Linked DNA regions of Homo sapiens. The protein of the gene in region 6 purifies or fractionates together with the protein of the main gene of each other region. This does not show direct contact. Each region holds a gene or a part of one and is shown on either strand. Other genes may lie near its edges. The genes, in order: CCT8, SUCLG2, TUBA8, TRMT1, CTNNA1, GARS1 and CPNE1.

Region 1 (3,500 bases), on a different chromosome or scaffold from region 6:
TCTTGGTATAATTATGTACTGCATATAAAACACTACAGCACAGAGTTTGCTAGCTCCCTTGTTAGAAATTCAATTGTAAACTTTCAGCGCATGAGAAAGTTTACTGCTTTTATGGATAACCGCAATAAAATCCACAGAGATTAGTGAACATTCCAAGACATGCACTTCAATAACTCAAAAAGCTGAAAGTGAAAATATGTGCATGCATCACTGGTGTAAGTCGGTCAGTTTGGCACCTGATTTGCTATTTATATATGAGATGTGTCTTGCCAACCATCTCTGTCCCAATTTCCTTGTGGTTTAGGAGCTTTAGGCCCACCTGCCAGCTTTGCCATTATAATCTAAAGTAGTTGATACATAAGTATATACAAAGTTTAACACTGAAATTTTCTAAAACCTGTAAATGAGAATCATTCAAGCAGCCAGGAATTTTCATAAACAAAAATCTAAGTTCCCAACTTAAAAAAAAAAGCGCCACAAACCTCACCTTACTTTATCTAAAATAAATAGGTTTTAGCTTTTTTTTTTTTTTTCTTTTTGAGACGGAGTCTTGCTCTGTTGCCCAGGCTAGAGAGTGCAGTGGCGCGATCTTGGCTCAATGCAACCTCTGCCTCCTGGGTTCAAGCAATTCTCCTGCCTCAGCCTCCTGAGTAACTGGGATTACAGGTGCCCATCACCATGCCCGGCTAAGTTTTTACTTTTAGTAGAGACGGGGTTTCACCACGTTGGCCAGGCTGGTCTCAAACTCCTGCATGATCCACCCGCCTCAGCCTCCCAAAGTGTTGGGATTATAGGTGTGAGCCACTGCGCTCGGCTGGAAAACATCTTAATTACCATCTGCAAACCTGAACTGGGCAGTGGCTCATGCCTGTAATCCTAGCACTTTGGGAGGCCAAGGTTTGAGGCCAGGAGTTTGAGACCAGCCTGGGCAACAAAGTGAGACCTAGTCTACAAAAACTAAAAATATATATATATATAAAATATATATATAACATTTGATAATATATATATGATATATGTATCATATATACGATACATATATCATACATATATCATATATAATATATATCATACATATATGTATGATATATATATCATGTATATGTATGATATGAGATATATATGATATATATGAGATATGTATGATATATACATATGTATGATATATACATATGATATGTGTGATATATACATATCAGATATATATGATATATATCTCAGCCAACCATGACAGCACCTGCCTACAGTCCCAGCTATTCGGGATGTTAAGGCAGAAGAATCACTGGAACTCAGGATTTTGAGGCTGTGGTGAGCTGATTATGATTGTGCCACTGTCCTCCAGCCTGGGTGATAGAGTAAGACCTTATCACAACAACAACAAAAAAGATACCTAAACCTGAAATTCTCAGAATAACATGTTACCAATTGAGAGTAATTTCAGACTGAATTAAAGGCATTAAGCATAATTTTAGAACCTAAGTGCACATTGATTTTAAAAAGTAACTAAAAGCTGGGTGTGGTGGCTCATGCCTGTAATCCCAGCACTTTGGGAGGCCAAGGCGGACAGATCACGAGGTCAAGAGATCGAGACCATCCTGGCCAACATGGTGAAACCCCGTCTCTACTAAAAATACAAAAAAAAATTAGGTGGGCATGGTGGCATGCGCCTGTAGTCCCAGCTACTCGGGAGGCTGATGCAGCAGAATTGCTTGAACCTGGGAGGTGGCGGTTGCAGTAAGCTGAGATCACACCACTGCACTCCAGCCTGGTGACAGAGCAAGACTCCATCTCAAAGAAAAAAAAGAAACAAACACTAAAACAAGTAGTTCCCAAACTTTAGTGGGCACCATAATCAAAAGTGCTCATTAAAACAGACTGCTAGGCCTCTTCCAGCATTTCTGATATTGGTGGGTCTGGAGTGACATCTGAGAATCTGTATTTCTTCTTTTTTTTTTTTTTTTGAGATGGAGTCTTGCTCTGTCGCCCAGGCTGGAGTACAGTGGTGCCATCTCTACTCACTGCAGGCTCCACCTCCCAGGTTCATGCCATGCTCCTGCCTCAGCCTCCCGAGTAGCTGGGACTACAGGCATCTGCCACCACGCCCAGCTAATTTTTTGTTTTTTTTAGTAGAGACGGGATTTCACCATGTTAGCCAGGATGGTCTCAACCTCCTGACCTCGTGATCCTCCTGCCTTGGCCTCCCAAAGTGCTGGGATTACAGGCGTGAGCCACCGCGCCTGGCCTCCAAGAATCTGTATTTCTTATTTATTTTTAGTTTTTTAAAAGATGGAGTGTCACTCTGTCAACCAGGCTGGAGTGCCATGATGTGATCACAGCTCACTGCAGCCTTCAACTCCTGGGCTCAAGTGATCCTCCCACCTCAGCCTCCTGCGTAGCTGGGACTACAGGTGTGAGCCACCATACCTGGCTGAGAACTGTCATTCTAACAAGTTCTCAGGTGATGTTGATACTATTTTGGGACCATACTTTGAGAACTAGTGAAATAGACATTCCAACAAAGATTAATCCAGTCCGTACTACACTATCCAATGCTTAAAGCTTGATGTGCAATTCCTTTTCTAGAATATATACTATACAAATTTAGGTTCATTATACTATACACTATATACACAAACTGGTTAATACAGTTGGATGGGTTCTTTAGATACATACTTCACATAGAGTGCAAAGACTGGGGGAACAGATCAACCAACAACTTCCCCTACCATAAGATAAAGCAGACTTCCTAGTTTAAAGCCAAAATTCAAACTGCCTTTGTGACCAAGGGTGGTGGTTATTGTCTTGCTTGAATAATTGACATTCAAAGTTCCTAACACAGTTGGAATTTCTGCGTTCCTTATGCTGCAGTCTACTTAGCTTCTTCCGTCCCTGCTATTTTTGGTTTCCCCTTTTATTCTTAGCCACATTCTAATTTCTAGAATAAGTATTTTCTTAGGTTTCTATTTAAGAACTCAAACATATTCTTCCATTGAAAATCACCTAATAAGCTGACAGAGAAACCCGTTAATCTGGTACATAAACATCTAGTTTCTGCTTATTTTCAATGACTTGAAACTAAATATCCAGTTCCATTTTTGGTCATCTCTTGCTATCATAGTTCTTCCAATAAATTTGTTATAATTACCACCAACTGGTCCTTACTGTACTTAAAAGCTGAAATGTCTTTCCACTGATTTCTACTTAGGACTTACTCCACCTTTAATATGACATATGACTTTTACCTAATGGATGTATACTGTCCCTCTAGCAAATTAAAATTTTCTATTAAGTACTTATAAATAGTCATTGCTTATTAATTACTTCTAGAATTTTGTGGGGAAATGTATTTAATTAAGTTTGCCAGAAAATACCTTTTGGAAAAATAATTATGATTTCAGGTTTACTTCTATATATAGAACAGTCTACCACAATTCTTCAAAAAAAAAAAAAAAAGGGTAGAAATATGATTTTAAACACCTTTAACATCTTTTAGTATCTCA
Region 2 (3,500 bases), on a different chromosome or scaffold from region 6:
GGTTATTTTCAGAAACTCACTAAGAAAGGAACAAAATTTAGTGAAGACGTTGCATACTTAGGCTACTGCGTATAAAAATAGCAATTAAGAGCAAAGACTTTGGAGTTATCCAGACCCAAGTTATACCAACTCAGAGTCCAATAATATAATTATCAATGTCTAGGTTGTTGTCTACTTCTATATAAAATCTATTTTATGCCTGTAATCCTAGCACTTTGGGAGGCTGAGGTGGGCAGATTGCCTGAGCTCAGGAGTTTGAGACCAGCTGGAGCAACATGGGAAACCTCATCTCTGCTAAAAATACAAAAAATTAGCTGGGCATGGTGGCATGTGCCTGTAACCCCAGCTACTCAGAAGGCTGAGGCAGGAGAACCGCTTGAACCCGGGAGGCAGAGGTTGCAGTGGGCCAAGATCACACCACTGCACTCCAGCCTGGGTGACAAAGTGAGACTCTGTCTAAAACAAAAAACAAAAATAAAACCCCAACTCATATTAGAGTTAATTTTTTCCTCTGTCCTTTTAGCTTGTTTTTCTAAAGGATGGTTAAGTCGTCTTATTCAGACAAAAATTGCATTTCATATATGGGATTTTTTTTTCTTTTCTAATACCGTTCAGGATTGGGGCAAGAGGCAATGTTAAATAAAAACAGAAATTTGAGTTTTGGGAGAGATCAGATCTTTAAATAAATAGAAACAGTGACATTTAGTACATGTGAATCAATTTGGTAAATACTGAATGAAGAGACGAGTTACTGTTGAGTGGGATTTGTCATCTTAATTTTCAGCACCTTGAGTAAATAAGCCTTGAATTAAATTACTTCATGAGAGTTTTTCTCAAGATGAGAAAAACTTGCTTTACTTTGGGCTGCTGACTTGCTGACTTACTATATTGATTTAGCACTTGAGATGTAATCAGAAGAGATGATTTTAGTGAACTCATTTTTGGCCTGGGGTGTATGTTGCAGATGTGCGTAGGTTGTTGTCTTTTTCTATTTGTCCTGATCTCTGGTTTCATAGTCTCTGAACTGGTTGCTTGTTCTACCAACACTGTTTTGCATGGAATACTTTGACTGGAGGTCAAATGGCGACACGTTTAATTGACAACACTTCATTGAGGATACAACTCTTTCTGTGTCTTGATGGTTAGTGACTAAAGCTGATCTAATCAAGCCTATGTAGTGCCAATTAACAATGCCCAATTAGGTATTCTCTCTGGCTTTCAAGTTTTGCTGCTGGAAAGCTCAGAGAGGAAAGCATCTCTTCAGGATGACAAGGATATGAAAAATGATAATGGCAATGGAATGCCAGTTATGTAAAGAATTTGAAGTGATCACAATTAAAAATTTGAGTAGACAGCAAAAAGTATTTTTTCCACTTGATGTCTTCCAAAGAAAAACAGGAAATGTCTTCCTGTGTGCCATTTTTTCTTAATTGCTGAAAATTATTATAATGTTGATAGCTATCATATTTTGACTTTAAAAAAATGTGCCAGGCACTTTACTGTATTTCATTTATTCTTCACATCATCCTTACACTGTAGACTTCTTTAATATGACTACTTTACAGAAGGGCATGCTACTTTTACCTTTCTGAATCTCAGTTGTTTCTTCTCTACAAAGAAAGTGATAGGTAGAGTTGGAGATTTTAACCAGGTCTGTTTAACTCCAATATCCTTGCTCTTACTACTGTTCTTGCAGTAAGCTAAATATGCAATGTATTCATTTTACTTGGTTGCTTTCCTTGTGAGTTTCTGACAATTAATTTGTCTTCTACTCAGCTTGATGGAAACCAGTTTATTATAAGACAGGGCTTGACCAATGTTGTGATGGTTCGTATCCAGGGCAGAAATTATTGCCAGAGGGTACACAGGACAGCCTTCTAAGAAAAAACTGTGTTTGCTTCTGAGAAGAAGGTGGGCTTCAGCTTTCTGAGTGTAAGCAAATATAGGAGACAAGAAGACTAACCAATGAAGGCAGTGAAGGAGCCTCAATGGTGTGACATCAGCTGGCTGAATGCCTTCTGTAAAATACTTCTGTAGCTCCCCATTGCCTTGATGATAAAACCTTCCACAGCTCTTTCCGTTTGAACCTTTACCTGCTTGCCTGTGGGTAACAATGATGATGACAGTGACAGTAATAGCTGAAATAACCAAACTTAATGGAGCGCTTGTTAGTTTTTTGGTTTAGCCATCTCTGTAATGATTCCTTTCATTCTTTACAATATACAAAGGTAATAAATGAACTAACTGGTCGAGGCAATAGTTTTTAATTAATCACAAGTTTTCAGGCTCTGGGATAAAGCATTCATGTGTGTTCATTTAATTTTTAAAACAACCCTTGTCATCATTTCACAGTTGAATAAACCGAGTTTCAGAGACATTAAGTAACTTGCCTAATGTCACACAGCTGGGTGAGGGATGAAGGCCAGATTGAAACCTGGGTTTGCAGATTCTAAATCTGGTATACTGAACCAGAATACTCTCATGGCCTTATAGGGGATCAGCTGGGTTCTGTGATTTTAAATAAAGATGACTCACAAACAGAGGATATCAGCTGTGGTCTGCAGTTGTGTGCTATTTGGTTTATTAAACATATTTGATTTGGAGGCAGTTTTTTGTTTGTTGTTGTTTTGTTTTGTTTTGGTGGTTGGGGAGGGGAGCTACCCTGTTTGCTAAAGGCCCCATTTGTCACTGGGCTACTTCATGCACCCAACTTCCCTGCAAGGGAAGATATTTGTGTTAATAACTCTCGTCTAAAAAGTCAAGATTAGAGAGTTCTTTCATTCGTGGAGTGTGATGAGAAACAAAGATTCCACAACCACTTTCCCCCAGGATATTTTGTTACCTTGCCAATGATTTTAAAATATTGCTTGCTTTTAGTTTTAATCCATTTCCTCCTCCCTTTCCCAACCCTATCAGTATATAGAACAACTGCTCAGAAAACTGTTGGTTTCCAATAATGCAGTTATTAACTATGACCTTTGTGTCTTGTCTTTAAACCTTCCCCCGCATAATCCAGTCTTCCCTTTGACATCTCTGATGGTTAGCTCCTCTTACTGGCCAACTGGTGCCTCTGCCACATGGGAGTGCCATTACACAGTAAAATTAATACCTCCTTCCAGGATTTATTTAGCTTCTTCTGACACACTCAAAAGAGCAAGGGAACACATGTCTTGCTTTCCCTTGGGAAGGTCAAGTATTAGATGATTAAACTGGTAGGAAGCATTTGAATATCCTCAGTAAACAAGCTTTGTATTTAGGCTCATAGATGTTTTTTTGAAGTTCTTCATTGCATTTATTTTCAAAGTTAGTTTGAGAGAGCTTTTACCAGTTACTTGGAAGTTATGTGCCATTATTGCTTTCCTTATTGCTTAAAAAACAAAAAAAGAATTTAAAATCAGCTACCAACTCTGGATTTTTCTTTTTCAGATGCAAAAGAAATTGTTTTAAAAGCCCAGATCTTAGCTGGAGGAAGAGGAAAAGGTGTCTTCAATAGTGGTTTG
Region 3 (2,212 bases), on a different chromosome or scaffold from region 6:
TGCCTCAGCCTCCCGAGTAACTGGGACTACAGGCGCCTGCTACCACACCCGGCTAATTTTTTGTATTTTTAGTAGAGACGGGGTTTCACCGTGTTAGCCAGGATGGTCTTGATCTCCTAACCTTGTGATCTGCCCGTCTCGGCTGGGATTACAGGCAGGAGCCACCGCGCCTGGCCTCCAACCTAAAGTTAGTTTTAATGGATATTTTACACTTCTTTGTACAGCATGATTTTGTGGCCATTTTAATTTTAGAGTTAACCAAATTATTCCAGTTGCCAGAGGAGTATGATGCCTCTCTCTAACAAAAAGCTGTGTTCTCCCAATTTATTTTGAAAACTTAAAATATCTATCCTGCACATCTTAATCAATTTGGAGTAATAAGATACTTTTATAGTTGTTCTATGATTGCTATTTTCCATTGCCATTAACCAGGAGTAAGCAAAAACCAGCAAGCCGTGTGGCTGGTGGTAACCAAGTGCCCGCAGTCTGGAAAATGCCAGGCTCAGAGAGTCAGTGGGGAGATACAAAATAGCGAGGGTAGACCCTGGGGCCCCAGGACCAGGAATGCTGAATGGTAGAAGTCACCCCTCTGAGCTGGACCGGCAGGCAAGCAGCCTGGCTGTGCACATGAACAGCTCAGCCACTCCACCCATGGTCTTTTGTCAGATTCTGCCATCATAACAGCTACCACATTCACATTAACTACTGCCCTGTAGTCAGGATTTCTTTTTTTATTTTTTATTGTATTTTTCCCCTGAGATGGAGTCTTGCTCTGTTGCCCGGGCTGGAGTGCAGTGGTGCAATCTTGGCTCACTGCAAACTTTGCCTCCCGGGTTCAAGTGATTCTCCTGCCTTAGCCTCCCAGGTAGCTGGGATTACAGGCATGCACCACCACGCCTGGCTAATTTTTGTATTTTTAGTAGAGATGGGGTTTCACCATGTTGGCCAGGCTGGTCTCGAACTCCTGACCTCAGGTGATCCACCTGCCTCAGCCTCTCAAAGCATTGGGATTACAGGCGTGAGCCACCAAGCCTGGCCCCTAGTCATGCTTTCAATCATTCAGAGGTTTTACTGGTACCTATTGTGTGTCAGGGTTTGTCTCAGTTGCTGGAGGTGAAGAGATGAGCATGCCTCAGTTTTCTTGGCGGGAGTTACAAGTGTGAGGCACCAGCTGCGTGCTGGCCTCATAGCTGCCCTGCATGGGTCTGAGGCTTTGACCTGGCTGTTCTGCTGAGTGAGGAGTGTAGCATTCCTTTTCACTGCTATCCTTCTAGCTACATATATAATTTCCCCCCAAGACTATGCCTATTTTTTATGTGACAGTTCTAATCATCCTGGCAAAACCAGTCAAGGTCTTCCAAAAAATGAAATTCTTTTTTCTTTTTCAAATGGAAACAAACAACCAGCTAGTAGGAGAATGAATGGGGAAAAAAGAGAATGAATGAGAGACATGGTGGGTGATGGGGAAATTAACAAAGCGGAAATGTCCCCTCATTCTCTCTCCTTAAAGCAGAAGCTCTGGAGTTATGTCCTGAAGGATCATTATGGTAGCATTAGCATAAGCTAAGAAAAGTATGTTCCCTGGAGAGGATGCTGCTAAACTTCATCTTCTTGCATTCTCTCCAACAGTACTTGTCCCCACTTGACTCAGGTCAAGAGATGTTAGCACTTAGAGGAGAACAGGTTGGCCCAGGCACAAGGTTTATGGCAGTCGGCTCAGTTCTAGCAATGTATGTGATGTGGCCAAATTCATATACATTGCCTTTCCCTTCCCCACTTTGCCCCTCTCCCAGTATCACCTCCACCTCCAAGATGCCACCTGTGCCTAAGAGGAATGACGGCTGCTGTGGGTCCAGTGGCTGCCTGGCTACCCATGTTGCCACACAGCTGGCTGCCATTCCCACACCAGCCCCTCAGGAGGATGTGCATTTTAAAGCTATGGATTTAAGAGACTGGCGATTAAAATGTGGTGGTCTCAGTGGGAGAGGTGGCTGAGGACATCACTATAGTTCTCATAAGTAATGTCACGGTTTGCCACATTAGACTTGTCCCAGTTTCCCATGGTTCCTGGGGTTGGCTTTGGTTTGGGACGTGTGTTGGGAAGAAGAGAGATTTCCAGGATAGCAGCACCACTGTAAGACGGGTCTGGGCTGAGCCTGGGAGACCTGCCATGCTGCCAGAACTTGGCAAGACCTTCAACAACCTTCTTGGA
Region 4 (3,500 bases), on a different chromosome or scaffold from region 6:
CTGCTCAGCATCAGCGCTGACTTCTACGTGCGTGTTTTTGTCCGTGTCTTCACCGGCCAGGCCAAGGTCAAGGCCTCAGCCAGGTCAGCCCGGGGGCAGAGAGCGGTGGTGGATTGAGAGAGGAGACAGGACCTTGCCCTGGGGGATCTGGGGCTTCTTAAGGGACAGAGCCAGTCTAAGGGAGGAGTTGGGGTGTCGTGGTCACGCTGGGAACTCGTGGCCACTGGTACCCCCCACAGCAAGCAGGCGCTGGTGTTCCAGTGTGTGGGCTGCGGGGCCTTCCACCTTCAGCGTCTCGGCAAAGCGTCAGGAGTCCCCAGCGGCCGGTGAGCAGGGAGGAAGGAGAAGAAGGGGAGTCCCAGGGTTTTCCTCCCTCCCCACCAACCACCCCTCTCTGTTTAGGGCCAAGTTCTCTGCAGCCTGTGGTCCCCCTGTGACCCCCGAGTGTGAACACTGTGGGCAACGACACCAGGTAGGGCTAGGCCAGGGGAGGCAAAGGAGCAAGAGGGTCTTGAAGGTCATAGTCCCTGCTCACCTGTCCCCGGTGCGCCCCCAGCTTGGTGGCCCCATGTGGGCAGAGCCCATCCATGACCTGGATTTTGTGGGCCGTGTCCTGGAGGCTGTGAGCGCTAACCCCGGCCGCTTCCACACCTCGGAGCGGATCCGAGGGGTCCTGAGCGTCATCACTGAGGTGAGAGCCGGGCTGTGACGGGGAAGGGGGCTCCACCTGTGCCCGTCCATCTCCACTCATGCCCATCCTGTCCCCCATCGCAGGAGCTCCCGGACGTGCCTCTGTACTACACCCTGGACCAGCTGAGCAGCACCATCCACTGCAACACACCAAGCCTCCTGCAGTTGCGGTAAGAGCCCCTGGGGTCGGGAGGAGCCTGTCCCAGACCACAGGGTGGCCTGGGGCAAGTCCAGGGATTCTCATGCATAGAACTTGCGAGGGGGTGGGGAGAACCCGGTGCACTGTCTCATTCCTGTAATCCCAGTACCTTGGGAGGCTGAGGCAGGAAGATCACTTGAGGCCAACCTGGGCAACGTAGTAAGACCCTATCTCTAACAAATAAATAAATAAATATATATGTACACACACATACATATACACACACATACATACGTATGTATACACACACACACACACACACACACCCATTAGCCTGGCATGGTGATACATGCCTATAGTCCTAACTACTCAGGAGGCTGAGGTGGGAGGATCATTTGGGCCAGGAGTTTGATGCTAAAGTGAGCTATGATCATGCCACTCCAGCCTGGGTGACAAAATGAGACCCTGTCTCTTTAAAAAAAAAAAAAAAAAAAAAAAATTAGGCCAGGCTTATTGGCTCATGCCTATATTCCCAGCACTTTGGGAGGCTGAGGTGGGCAGATCACTTGAGGTCAGGAGTTCAAGACCAGCGTGGTCAAAATGGTTAAACCCTGTCTCTACTAAAAATACAAAAATTAGCTGGGTGTGGTGGCACATGCCTGTAGTCCCAGCTACTTGGGAGGCTGAGGCACGAGAATCACTGGAACCTGGGAGGAGGAGGAGGCGGTGGTGAGCCAAGATTGCGCCACTGCACATCAACCTGGGCAACAGAGCGAGACTCCATTTAAAATATAATAATAATAATTAGAAAAAGAAAAAGGCCAGGTGTGGTGGCTCATGCCTGTAATCCCAGCACTTTGGGAGGCTGAGGCGGGCGAATCACTTGAGGCCAGGAGTTCGAGACCAGCCCGGTCAACGTGGCGAAACCCCATCTCTACTAAAAATACCAAAATATTAGCCAGGCGTCATGGCACATCCCTGTAATCTCAGCTACTCAGGAGGCTGAGACAGGAGAATTGGTTGAACCTGAGAGGCAGAGGCTGCAGTGAGCCAAGATTGCATCATTGCACACCAGCCTGAGCGACAGAGTGAGACTCCACCTCAAAAAAATAATAAATAAGAAGGCCAGGCACGGTGGCTCACTCCTGTAATCCCAGCACTTTGGGAGGCTGAGGCGGGCGGATCACAAGGTTAAGAGATCGAGACCATCCTGGCCAACATGGTGAAACCCTGTCTCTACTAAAAATACAAAAATTAGCTGGGCGTGGTGGCACATGCCTATAGTCCCAGCTATTCGGGAGGCTGAGGCAGGAGAATCGCTTAAACCCAGGAGGCGGAGGCTGTGGTGAGCCAAGATTGCGCCATTGCACTCCAGCCTGAGCGACAGAGCGAGACTCCATCTCAAAAAAAAAAAAAAAAAAAAAAAGAAAAGAAAAGAAATGAACTCTGTAGCCATGAGCCCTTGCCGAAGGTAGTCTTACCTACGCTGGTCAGCTTGGGCTTTGGGGTCAAGGAGTCCGGCATCTCCCTCATAATCCCTGCTGTTCCCCAGGTCGGCCCTCCTCCACGCTGACTTCCGGGTCTCACTCTCCCACGCCTGTAAGAACGCTGTGAAGACGGATGCCCCTGCCTCTGCCCTCTGGGACATCATGCGTTGCTGGGTGAGGGCAGGGCTGACCTCATGCAGGTGGGAGGGCAGGTGGTGGTCACCTGGAGGTCCCTTGGGCCTAGTATTCCCTAACCTCTGACCTCTGCCCCCAGGAGAAGGAATGTCCGGTGAAACGGGAGCGACTATCAGAGACTAGCCCAGCGTTCCGCATTCTCAGTGTGGAGCCCAGGTAGGGGCAAGCACATGCAGGAGCGGCCAGGGCTGCCCACAGACATGGAAGCACATGTGTGTGCAGACAACACAGATGCTGCCCCACACAGACTCGTGCCCATTCTTCAAGTGAGATTCAAAATCTGCTGACTGGGGCTGGGTAGGTGGCTCACGCCTGTAATCCCAGCACTTTGGGAGGCTGAGGCAGGTGGATCACCTGAGGTCAGGAGTTCAAGACCAGCCTGGCCAACATGGTGGAACCCCATCTCTACTAAAAATACAAAAATTAGCTGGGCATGGTGTGGTGGTGGGTGCCTGTAATCCCAGCTACTCAGGAGGCTGAGACAGGAGAATCGCTTGAACCTGGGAGGCAGAGGTTGCGGTGAGTCTAGATCGCGCCATTGCACTCCAGCCTGGGCGACAGAGCGAGACTCCATCTCAAAAAGAATAAAAAAATAGCTGGGTGCGGTGGCTCATGCCTGTAGTCCCAGCACTTTGGGAGGCCGAGGCAGGCGGATCACGAGATCAGGAGATTGAGACCATCCTGGCTAACACAGTGAAACCCTGTCTCTACTAAAAATACAAAAAAAAAAAAAAAAAAATTAGCCGGGCGTGGTGGCAGGTGCCTGTAGTCCCAGCTACTCGGGAGGCTGAGACAGGAGAATGGCGTGAACCCCGGGGGGCAGAGCTTGCAGTGAGCCGAGATAGCGCCACTGCACTCCAGCCTGGGTGACAGAGTAAGACTCCGTCTCAAATAAATAAATAAATAAATAAATAAAAATAAAAATAACTAAATCTGCTGACTGGGCTGGGCGTAGTGGCTCACACCTGTAATCCCAGCACTTTGGGAGG
Region 5 (3,500 bases), on a different chromosome or scaffold from region 6:
GCAGAGACGCTCCTCACTTCCCAGACGGGGTGGCGGCCGGGCAGAGGCTGCAATCTCGGCACTTTGGGAGGCCAAGGCAGGCGGCTGGGAGGTGGAGGTTGTAGCGAGCCGAGATCACGCCACTGCACTCCAGCCTGGGCACCATTGAGCACTGAGTGAACCAGACTCCGTCTGCAATCCCGGCACCTCTGGAGGCCGAGGCTGGCGGATCACTCGCGGTTAGGAGCTGGAGACCAGCCCGGCTAACACAGTGAAACCCCGTCTCCACCAAAAAAATACAAAAACCAGTCAGGCATGGCGGTGCGCGCCTGCAATCACAGGCACTCGGCAGGCTGAGGCAGGAGAATCAGGCAGGGAGGCTGCAGCGAGCTGAGATGGCAGCAGTACAGTCCAGCTTCAGCTCGGCATCAGTGGGAGACCGTGGAAAGAGAGGGAGAGGGAGACCGTGGGGAGAGGGAGAGGGAGAGGAGGGAGAGGGAGAGGAGGGAGAGGGGGAGGAGGGAGAGGGGGAGGAGGGAGAGGGGGAGGAGGGAGAGGGGGAGGGGAAATGTTTCTTAATCTGTCTTTTTTTTTTTTTTTTTTTTTTTAAACAGAGTCTTGCTCTGTGGCCCAGGCAGGAGTGCAGTGGCACCATCTCCACTCACTGCAAGTTCTGCTCCCCCAGGTTCATGCCATTCTCCTGCCTCAGCCTCCCGAGTAGCTGGGACTACAGGCGACCGCCACCACGCCCGGCTAATTTTTTGGTATTTTTAGTAGAGACGGGGTTTCACAGTGTTGACCAGGATGGTTTCGATCTCCTGAACTCGTGATCCACCCGCCTTGGCCTCCCAAAGTGCTGGGATTACAGACGTGAGCCTCCGCGCCCGGCTGCTTTGACATTTTTCAAGACTACAGCCAGTTATTTTGTAGATCGTCTCACGCTTTGAATTTGATGTTGCCTCATGACTAGTTGAGGTTATGTAATTTTCAGGCGAAATAACACAGAGGTGATGTTGTATCCTTCTCAGTGCATCGTGTTAGGAGATACGTGATGTGGGTTTGTGTCCTTATTAGGGACAGTAATTTTGATTACTTGGTTAAGGTGGCATCTCAGGTTTCTGGACTGTGAAGTTACTATTTCCCCCATCTGTCATAAATAAATAATCTGTTGGGAGTTACTATGACACTAGATCACGCTACTGAGAAACTGAATGCTAATCTACTTGGTTAGCATTCTTTGATTCTTGCCTGAGGCAATTAATATTATGGTTCCTGAATGCTGATTTTTCTAAATACATTGTTCTTTCTACATTTATTAGTTTGTTTCCTATTGTTTGGAAGAACTTTTCCTTCTTTATTCATATTAGCATGGACTCATGCATTAGTCAATGGATCATACTTTGTTCTATCTAATCTCCACTAAAGCTCTCTGAAGAAGGCAGTGGTTGGTAGTCTTTTATGAGGGATCTAGTTCAAAGTTACGTTTTTTTTTTGAGATGGAATCTTGCTCTGTTGCCTAGGCTGGAGTGCAGTGGCATGATCTCGGCTCATTGCAACCTCTGCCTCCCAGGTTCCAGCGATTCTCCTGGCTCAGCCTCATGAGTAGCTGCGATCACAAGCAACCGCCACTACGCCTGGCTAATTTTTGTATTTTTAGTAGAGAGAGGGTTTCACCACATTGGCCAGGCTGGTCTCGAACTCCTGACCTCAGGTGATCCACCCACTTTGGCCTCCCTAAGTGCTGGAATTACAAGCATGAACCACCATGCCTGGCCAGTTTTCACCCAGTAGTTTTGACATTCATTGCTAATCCTTGGCTGGATCAGTTTTTACCAGTGGGGGTTGCAAGATGGTCATTTTCTAATTCTATTCTAGATTCATGGTAAAGAAATTCCCTCCCCATACCCTTTCTTTTGAGGATCCCTATGGTCTTAAGGATATTTATTTAATTATTTAGTTACAGACAGTTACAGTCATTATTCTCTTTGATAGTTGTCCTAAATTTGGCTGATGGGAGCCCTTGCTTCCTGTGTCTTTTGATATGATCTTGTTAGTCTTGTCCCCTTTCCGCACAATACAGTGCTTCAGACCTGGAACTTTGGTTTCTATTAATGGGAAATGGTCCGTTTTTTAAAAAAAAAATAAGTAGAAATGGGATCTCTCTGTGTGGCCCAGGCTGGTCTCAAACTCCTGGGCTTAAGTGATCCTCCTGCCTTGGCCTTCCAAAGTGCTGGTATCACAGGCATGAACCACCATGCAAATGGTATTTAATAGAAATAAATACTTGGGCACTGATAACACTGGTTTTTTTTTGTTTTTGTTTTTTTTTTGAGACAAGAGCTTGCTCTGTTGCCCAGGCTGGAGTGCAGTGGTGCGATCTTGGCTCACTGCAACCTCCACCTCCCAGGTTCAAGTGGTTTTCCTGCCTCAGCCTCCTGAGCAGCTGGGATTACGGGCGTGTACCACCACACTGGACTAATTTTTGTAGTTTTAATAGAGACGGGGTTTCACTATGTTGGCCAGGCTGGTTGTTTTGTTTTTTAATTTGCCAACATTGTTTTTAAGAGTAACATTGTAGCCCGTTGTGTCATTGTTACATAATTTATTGAGTGATCTGTTGTTTGAAATTTAGGTAATTTATAACTTTTAATGTTTATATAAAGCAGTGTTGTGAACATCATTGTATCCCAGTTTTTACATGTTCCTTAACTTTAGAATAAGATTTTAGCAGTAGATTTTCTGGGTCATACAAATGTACTTTTTAAAGATTTTATTTTATTTATTTATTTTATTTTTTATTTTTTTGAGACGGAGTCTTGCTCTTTCGCCCAGGCCGGACTGCAGTGGCGCTATCTCTGCTACTGCAAGCTCCGTCTCTGGGGTTCACGCCATTTTCCTGCCTCAGCCTCCCGAGTAGCTGGGACTACAGGTGCCCGCCACTGCGCCTGGCTAATTTTTTTTTTGTATTTTTAGTAGAGACTGGGTTTCACCGTGTTAGGCAGGATGGTCTCAATCTCCTGACCTCATGATCTGCCCGCCTCAGCCTCCCAAAGTGCTGGGATTACAGGCGTGAGCCACTGCGCCTGGCCAAGATTTTATTTTTTTAATTTTTATTATTATTATTATTTTTTAAGATGGAGTTTTTTTCTTGTTGCCCAGGCTGGAGTGCAATGGCACAATCTCGGCTCACTGCAGCCTCTGCCTCCCGGGTTCAAGCGATTCTTCTGCCTCAGCCTCCCGAGTAGCTGGGATTACAGGCGTGCACCACCAGCCTGGCTAATTTTGTATTTTTAGTAGAGACAGGGTTTATCCTTGTTGGTCAGGCTGGTGTCGAACTCCCGACCTCAGGTGATCTGCCCGCCTTGGCTTCCCAAAGTGCTGGGATTACAGGAGTGAGCCACCACGCCCAGCCTTTAAGCTTTTAAATGTCTACCAGCAGTTTGTTGTCTAGAAAGTTTATATTAGTGTTTACCTCAGCTTCATGCCTTTTCTTTTCTTTTTTTCTTTAATAATTGAAGGCA
Region 6 (3,500 bases):
AAAGACTTGCTAATGCTTTAAGGAAAACCATTTTATCTGCATGTCACTATTCAATATCTTATTTCTTATTTTTCATGTGATTTTTGCGTATGTTTTCCTAATTTAAAAAACTATATTAATCTGCCTTTAACAAGTTATTTTCAGTTAAAAGTAATAATCTTTTTGGATGTAGCTGGAGGGAAGGAATTAATACTTCAGAGAAGTTAGATCATGTTTATTTTAAATAGTGAGTAATAAAATTTTCATTAATGTGTTTAAAAATAACCTTCACATGTACCCCATAAATTTGTACAAATATAATACATCAAAAAAATAAAAATAACAACTACCCAGACAAATTTAATTCAAAATTTTTTTGGCCATTCCCTTAGGAAACCAACTTTCTGTTTAGTGAAAAAGACCACTATAGTATGGAGCCTTTATCACTAGAATGCAGTTGAAAATAGAGGCCTTGTTTTTTGTTTGTTTGTTTTTTGTAGTTAAATATGCAGGTTTATCGCTTACGTTTTTGCTTTCAGAGAATTCACAATGGCAGAAATTGAGCACTTTGTAGATCCCAGTGAGAAAGACCACCCCAAGTTCCAGAATGTGGCAGACCTTCACCTTTATTTGTATTCAGCAAAAGCCCAGGTCAGCGGACAGTCCGCTCGGAAAATGCGCCTGGGAGATGCTGTTGAACAGGTAGGATTCTGGAGGTAACTTAACTTAGATTGTGCCTGTTCAGGGTTTGCAGCAATTAGCAAATTCTATGTGTTCTGGGTGACAAGATATTTTATTTTGGCAGTCATTTGCTTTTTTACAGTACTTGGTTTTGTACAGAATTTGTTATACAGTATTATTATAGTAAGAGAAAAATCACCTGAACATCTCAATTTGTGGGCCTTGGGGCTAGCATGAAAAAAAATGTTTAGCAGAGCACTTGGAAAATAGATCTTGGTTTGCATTGTGCCTCACCAATCTGACTCAACAGTATGTACTACTTTGGGGGAGACAGCATTGGACCCACAGAAAGCAAGCCATCTGGGTTTCAGACTCTTCTGTATTACCCATAGCAGTGGAATAAGGCCTTGCATATAAGCACTTTGTAAATATTTGCCTGGAGAAGTGAGTGCGTGAAAACTTGCCAACAGTAGCTGCTGTCCACTAGTGGAATGAGTTGCCTCAGGGAGCAGTGAGCTTCCTGGCCCTGAAAATACTCCTGGCAAGGTTGGACGATAGCTTGTCAGCCACTTTGCAGAGAAGACCTCTGCAGTGTATGGAGATGGGGCTAGATGTTTTCTAAGGTCCTTGCAAACACTAAAATGATTACGTGTACTCTACGGGGTTCACAAATTTCAGTGGGTAAGGATACATTAAAATCCCCTCAACGTGTCATTACTTTGGTTAATTCAGAGGGGAATGTCTTTGCCATTCTTTAGTGTCAATTATGAATATTGTTTTTAGTACTGTAGATTTAGAGGTATGAGGTACTGGGCTGAATTTTTGCTGACCCAGTAAGTATGTTGGACAGATTTTGAATAACTCCATTATCATCATCTTGACATTAACCCATTAAAAAATAACCAAGATCTCATTCTGAGTATTTGAAATTGTTTTGAAAGCAAGATAAAATAGTTTGTGTTGGGTGTCAAATATTTTTCAGTAGAGTGAGTCAATGGAAACCGATATCTTGGCTTTGAAGAGTATTAATGTGTGTTTTCTTTTCTTCCTCCATGCTTGCTTATTGGTTGGTTTAGGGTGTGATTAATAACACAGTATTAGGCTATTTCATTGGCCGCATCTACCTCTACCTCACGAAGGTTGGAATATCTCCAGATAAACTCCGCTTCCGGCAGCACATGGAGAATGAGATGGCCCATTATGCCTGTGACTGTTGGGATGCAGAATCCAAAACATCCTACGTAAGTGGAGTGCTGTTTACCATGTGATTTTCACATTGTTAACTTAGAAGCACAGGTACCAAATGAATTTTTGTGCACTTTATGTCACAGAGGAACAAAGGGAAAAGAAAAGAGATCTTTTCCTGAGCAAAACAGAAAAAGCAGTTGCCTCCTGCCTTTTTATAAGTGTCCTAAGGAGCTCGTTGTAGTCTTAGATAGCTGAGAGACAGAGTTAGTGTATGATGGGACAGTGCGGATGTGTACACTGCTGTACAGTGTATTGGCAGCATTACTGGCAATATCCTGGAGTGGATCTAAGACACATTGGCCTCTCCTTCCTGGCAAGAGTCCCAGCAAACATTGGAAATGGTGGAGAGGTTGAATAAAGAAAGTCATAGTGCTCTTAGCTCAATGAGCTATGTAGTAGCTTTGGGGAATATACTAGTTGATTCTGATCTCTGGCTTAAGAACTACCTTCCTCAAATGTTATGTATTTAACTCAAAATTCACAGACGATCTCCAGGTACCCTCCTGCCCCTGTGCCCTGTCACCCCTCCAGCCTCCACCACCAAACATGAACATCAGTATTGAAGCGGAGGGACGAAAGGCATTTGCATATAGGAGATGCTGTCTATATTGGTGGCAGGAGGAAATGTGGCATCTAAAACAAGGCTGAGAGTCTTTTGGCATTTCTCTTATTGGGTGTTAGAGAGGCTTCCTCGCCTACATAGAAAGAGACTTTAGTCCAGGGGTCACTGGTTCCAGTATACCCTTGGTTCAGTTTTTACTTTTCAGAATGGCTTTCTTTTTATGGATTTTTAAAAATTAAAAATCAAAATTAGTCATATTTTAAAAAGTAATGACTACTTTTTTTAAAACAAAAAGGAAAAAATAATTCTGAAGACTATTATGTAGAAAATTAAACTTCCAGTTATATGCCTCTCCCCAGGTGTTTTATGTCTCTTCTCTGTATTGAGCAAACATTTTCTATAAAGGACCAGATGGTAAATATTTTTAGCTTTATGAGTCTCTGTCACATAACTTTGTTGTTTTTTACAGCTTGTAAAAAACAGCTTTTAAAAAATGTCCAAACTGGCTGGGTGTGGTGGCTCATGCTTGTAATCCTAGCACTTTGGGAGGCCGAGGTGGGAAGATTGCTTGAGCTCAGAAATTTGAGACCAGCCTGGGCAACATAGCAAGACCCTGTCTCTACAAAAAATACAAAAATTAGCCAGGTGTGATAGCACGCCCCTGTAGTTTCAGCTACTTGGGAGGCTGAGGTGGGAAGATCACATGAGCCCGGGAGGTTGAGGCTGTAGTGAGCCATGATTGCACCACTGAACTCAAGCCTGGGTGACAGAGTGAGGCCCTGTCTCAAACAAACAGACGAAAAAAGATCATGCTTAGCTCCATGGTCTTGGGTATGTCTGCCTTCTCTAGATGATTTTTCTACGTGTTCTAACACATGCATGCATAAATGCATAATAATATGCATATGTTTATAAATGGCTATTAATGATGTTGTTTTTAATATATTCTTTTTCCCTTGTGGAATTAGAAAGAATTACTGTAATCTGTTAGGATTTTCTTAGCAAGCTTGCTTGACATATGTCAAAATGA
Region 7 (3,500 bases), on a different chromosome or scaffold from region 6:
AATTTCATTTATATGGATCTATTTATCTTGTGATTTTCCTGATAGGCAGTAAGTTTTATTCCTTAGTAGCATTTTAGACTAATTACAAATACAGATGCTTGTTATTGATATGTTTATTTATATTTCCTAAGAGTTTAAGTATAGATAATGGGTCACATGTTTTAGAGTACAAATTTTAGACTTTAAATGGAACCTTAGCAAGTGGAATCTAACCCTCTTGTTTAAGTAACTAAGATAGGCCCAAGTTAGGTTGAAATGACTTAGCTGTCAAACAGTTACTTAGTAACAGAAAAGCAGATACTTTTTTAAATTTTTTTTTAAATTTTTATTTGTTTTATTTATTTATTTCTTTTTGAGACAGAGTTTCGCTCTTGTTGCCCAGGCTGGAGTGCAGTGGCGTGATCTCTGCCTCCCGGGTTCAAGTGATTCTTCTGCCTCAGCCTCCCTAGTAGCTGGGATTACAGGCACCTGCCACCATGCCCAGCTAATTTTTTGTGTTTTTAGTAGAGACGGGGTTTCACCTTGTTGGCCAGGCTGGTCTTGAACTCCTGACCTCGGGTGATCCACCCACCTCATCCTCCCAAAGTGCTGGGGTTACAGGTGTGAGCCACCGCACCTGGCTGCGGATATTATTTCATATTTTTTGGAAGCTAGAAACAATTTTTCTCATCAGATGGCTTTATGAATAAATCTTGTATTCCACTTTGGTTTAATATTCAGCCCTTTCCAGCTGGTAATCTGAGGCAGATTTTCAATAGCATATTCTCATGTGTACCTTGTACAAACTTTCAGTAAATCCCTGCTCTTAACAGAAAATGGCTTGAAGACTTAACTGTGTATGTCACTTTAGCCCTGTGTTTAATTTTTGTGTTCTTGGGACTATATCAAGTTTCTGTTTGATTGTCCCAGTGCAAACTAGTCTCTCTCTCTCTCTCAAGTTGTTTTGAGTACCTGGATTGCCCATGATGTTTCCCCTATACAAAGTGATTAACCGTTTTTTGAAGTTGAACAGGAAATGCTATCACATTTTGCATACAGCCACATATTCTAGATTGAGCAAGGAATGTGAATTTGATTTAATGACTTGGAAACTGCTTGATGAACCTCCTTATAGGCTGCTAAATAGTAAATGAGAAAAGAGACTGTTGGTGTGATGTTTTTTAGCGTTAATTTTTCTTGTTGACTCTTGAAGTTTGTAAATGAAAAGCTTCCCCACACTTCCCAAATTTCTAGTGCTTTATAATGGCCTCACAAAAAGCATTTTCTGTTTGCTAGTCCATTTTTCTGGATTAAATTTGAAGGTGGCTTTTTATTTTTGTGTATGTGTCTGTGAGAAAACTGTCAAAGCCAAGCAGTTTGTTTCTTGTTTGTATACGGCAGTTGTAATATTGAGATATAATTACAGATTTTGTTGCATTAGTATTTATATAATATTTGACAATGAAGTTACAGAATTCTTAGAGCTTATAGTAGAAAATCTTGCCCCTTCTAATATTCTTGAGAAGTGATAAAACCAAATCTCTTCATTAATTTATAACCTTTCTGAGGGTCATGAGCTGATTTTATGGGCTTATATTTAAAAGTTGACTTTTCAGGTGGGGCGCAGTGGCTCACGCCTGTAATCCCAGCACTTTGGAAGACTGAGGAGGGTGGATCACCTGAGGTCAGGTGAAATCCCATCTCTCCTAAATACAAACACTTAGCCAGGCATGGTGGCGCATGCCTGTAATCCCAGCTACTTGGGAGGCTGAGGCAGGAGAATTACTTGAACCTGGGAGGTGGAGGTTGCCGTGAACCGAGATCGTGCCGTTGCACTGCAGCCTGGGCTACAAGAGTGAAACTCTGTCTCAAAATAAATAAATAAATAAAAGTTGACTTTTCAGATGGGTTGGAAAACACCCTATGTTATTGACCACCTTAATTTCAAAGTAGTATGTTTCCCAGGCCCAATAATTCGGTTTGTGTCACTTTCCAAAGGGCTGCCCTTGAATTTGCTCTTAGAAGCCTTTGGAACTGAAATACTGAAATTTGAGGGGAACATTTCTTTTTTGATTATGTCAAAACAGGCATGATCTAAGGAGATCACAGAGATCCTGTAGGAGTTGTGTAGGTCCAAGACTGTAACAACCACTGAGTAATTCACACTCTGGTTCTAAAACAAAAACAAAAAATATTTTTATTGTCAGCCCTCTCCTAGGGGAAAATAATACTTTAAAAAATTTTATTAAATAGAGGATTTGGTTATGAGTCATTGGACCTGAGTTTTAATTAAAATAGTCACAGTGAATGGGACTATAACCAGGTTCTACTTTTGGGGGTAATGAATCAAGGTAACTCAGATTTTAGCTGTCCTATTCAGTAGTTCTTTTGGCTTCTTAGTATGTCTTAACCTTGTTTATAATAAATAATTCCATATGTAGTTTTTTGTAATGTACAAGGCAGATTGAAAAGTTTTAGGATGAATAAAATAATGGAACCAGTTCTCATTTAAGACTTGAATCTACTTTTAGTCTTAAGTATTATTTACAATTCATTAGTATTCTAGTTTTTTGCTTCTGTTGGATGGATTTTGAGACTGAGCTCTATAAAATCACACTCTTGATAATTCTATGAAATTATCAAGTATATAGGGAAGATGCTAAGCCAGTTTTAAATACTAACTTCTATATATTCTTTGCATGTTTTTTCCCTATAGATTGTTAAACTTTGTTTCCTGATTTGACTTAGACATTTCTTTTAAATCTTACTGAATGATTAGTGGTCTGAATGATGTATATGTATTTTACTGTCCTACAGTTGTTTTTTCTTGAACTTTTTGAGTCTTGGGACTGAACTGTTTCCAAAATTAATGCCTTCTGGAAGTTGAAATTGTCTACGTTTTACATTGTAAATGGCACGTAATGTTCAGTTTTTAGAATATCTAAATTAAAGACATTGCCTGTGATAGCTTGAGGGAATATTTGAGGGCCTAATATGGTAGCTGGTCATTCTTGTAGCTAAAAACTTGGTGTGATAAACAGGAGTCTGACCTGGCCGTTGCCTTTTCTCATCTGCAGGTGTGTGTGGTTTCAGCGCAGCATGGCTGTGGTCATCCGTTTGCAAGGTCTCCCAATTGTGGCGGGGACCATGGACATTCGCCACTTCTTCTCTGGATTGACCATTCCTGATGGGGGCGTGCATATTGTAGGGGGTGAACTGGGTGAGGCTTTCATCGTTTTTGCCACTGATGAAGATGCAAGGCTTGGTATGATGCGCACAGGTGGTACAATTAAAGGGTCAAAAGTAACACTATTGTTGAGTAGTAAGACGGAAATGCAGAATATGATTGAACTGAGTCGTAGGCGTTTTGAAACTGCCAACTTAGATATACCACCAGCAAATGCCAGTAGATCAGGACCACCACCTAGCTCAGGAATGAGTAGCAGGGTAAACTTGCCCACAACAGTATCCAACTTTAATAATCCATCACCCAGTGTAGTTACTGCCACCACTTCTGTTCA

What was found.
Region 1: the proteins of GARS1 (region 6) and CCT8 fractionate together in Homo sapiens (co-fractionation; one large-scale study listed by BioGRID). This does not show direct contact.
Region 2: the proteins of GARS1 (region 6) and SUCLG2 purify together in Homo sapiens (affinity purification with mass spectrometry; 2 studies listed by BioGRID). This does not show direct contact.
Region 3: the proteins of GARS1 (region 6) and TUBA8 purify together in Homo sapiens (affinity purification with mass spectrometry, with the first as the bait; one large-scale study listed by BioGRID). This does not show direct contact.
Region 4: the proteins of GARS1 (region 6) and TRMT1 purify together in Homo sapiens (affinity purification with mass spectrometry, with the first as the bait; one large-scale study listed by BioGRID). This does not show direct contact.
Region 5: the proteins of GARS1 (region 6) and CTNNA1 purify together in Homo sapiens (co-immunoprecipitation; 2 studies listed by BioGRID and IntAct, with this or other methods). This does not show direct contact.
Region 7: the proteins of GARS1 (region 6) and CPNE1 purify together in Homo sapiens (affinity purification with mass spectrometry, with the first as the bait; one large-scale study listed by BioGRID). This does not show direct contact.

What each region holds. Positions count from the first base shown.
Region 1 is NC_000021.9:29,056,649-29,060,148, forward strand, and holds part of CCT8 (T-complex protein 1 subunit theta), read right to left. Parts: intron 1-3,500. UniProt on the Homo sapiens protein: Component of the chaperonin-containing T-complex (TRiC), a molecular chaperone complex that assists the folding of actin, tubulin and other proteins upon ATP hydrolysis.
Region 2 is NC_000003.12:67,529,113-67,532,612, reverse strand, and holds part of SUCLG2 (succinate--CoA ligase [GDP-forming] subunit beta, mitochondrial isoform 2 precursor), read left to right. Parts: intron 1-3,426; coding exon 3,427-3,500. UniProt on the Homo sapiens protein: GTP-specific succinyl-CoA synthetase functions in the citric acid cycle (TCA), coupling the hydrolysis of succinyl-CoA to the synthesis of GTP and thus represents the only step of substrate-level phosphorylation in the TCA.
Region 3 is NC_000022.11:18,127,809-18,130,020, forward strand, and holds part of TUBA8 (tubulin alpha-8 chain), read left to right. Parts: intron 1-2,212.
Region 4 is NC_000019.10:13,106,741-13,110,240, reverse strand, and holds part of TRMT1 (tRNA (guanine(26)-N(2))-dimethyltransferase), read left to right. Parts: coding exon 1-83; intron 84-239; coding exon 240-326; intron 327-402; coding exon 403-472; intron 473-556; coding exon 557-691; intron 692-774; coding exon 775-860; intron 861-2,381; coding exon 2,382-2,490; intron 2,491-2,590; coding exon 2,591-2,667; intron 2,668-3,500. UniProt on the Homo sapiens protein: Dimethylates a single guanine residue at position 26 of most nuclear- and mitochondrial-encoded tRNAs using S-adenosyl-L-methionine as donor of the methyl groups. tRNA guanine(26)-dimethylation is required for redox homeostasis and ensure proper cellular proliferation and oxidative stress survival.
Region 5 is NC_000005.10:138,777,425-138,780,924, forward strand, and holds part of CTNNA1 (catenin alpha-1), read left to right. Parts: intron 1-3,500. UniProt on the Homo sapiens protein: Associates with the cytoplasmic domain of a variety of cadherins. The association of catenins to cadherins produces a complex which is linked to the actin filament network, and which seems to be of primary importance for cadherins cell-adhesion properties.
Region 6 is NC_000007.14:30,615,378-30,618,877, forward strand, and holds part of GARS1 (glycine--tRNA ligase isoform 1 precursor), read left to right. Parts: intron 1-518; coding exon 519-681; intron 682-1,736; coding exon 1,737-1,901; intron 1,902-3,500. UniProt on the Homo sapiens protein: Catalyzes the ATP-dependent ligation of glycine to the 3'-end of its cognate tRNA, via the formation of an aminoacyl-adenylate intermediate (Gly-AMP).
Region 7 is NC_000020.11:35,654,901-35,658,400, reverse strand, and holds part of CPNE1 (copine-1), read left to right. Parts: intron 1-3,056; exon of another isoform or gene 3,057-3,078; coding exon of another isoform or gene 3,079-3,500. Other genes in the region: RBM12 (RNA-binding protein 12), read left to right, coding at 3,079-3,500.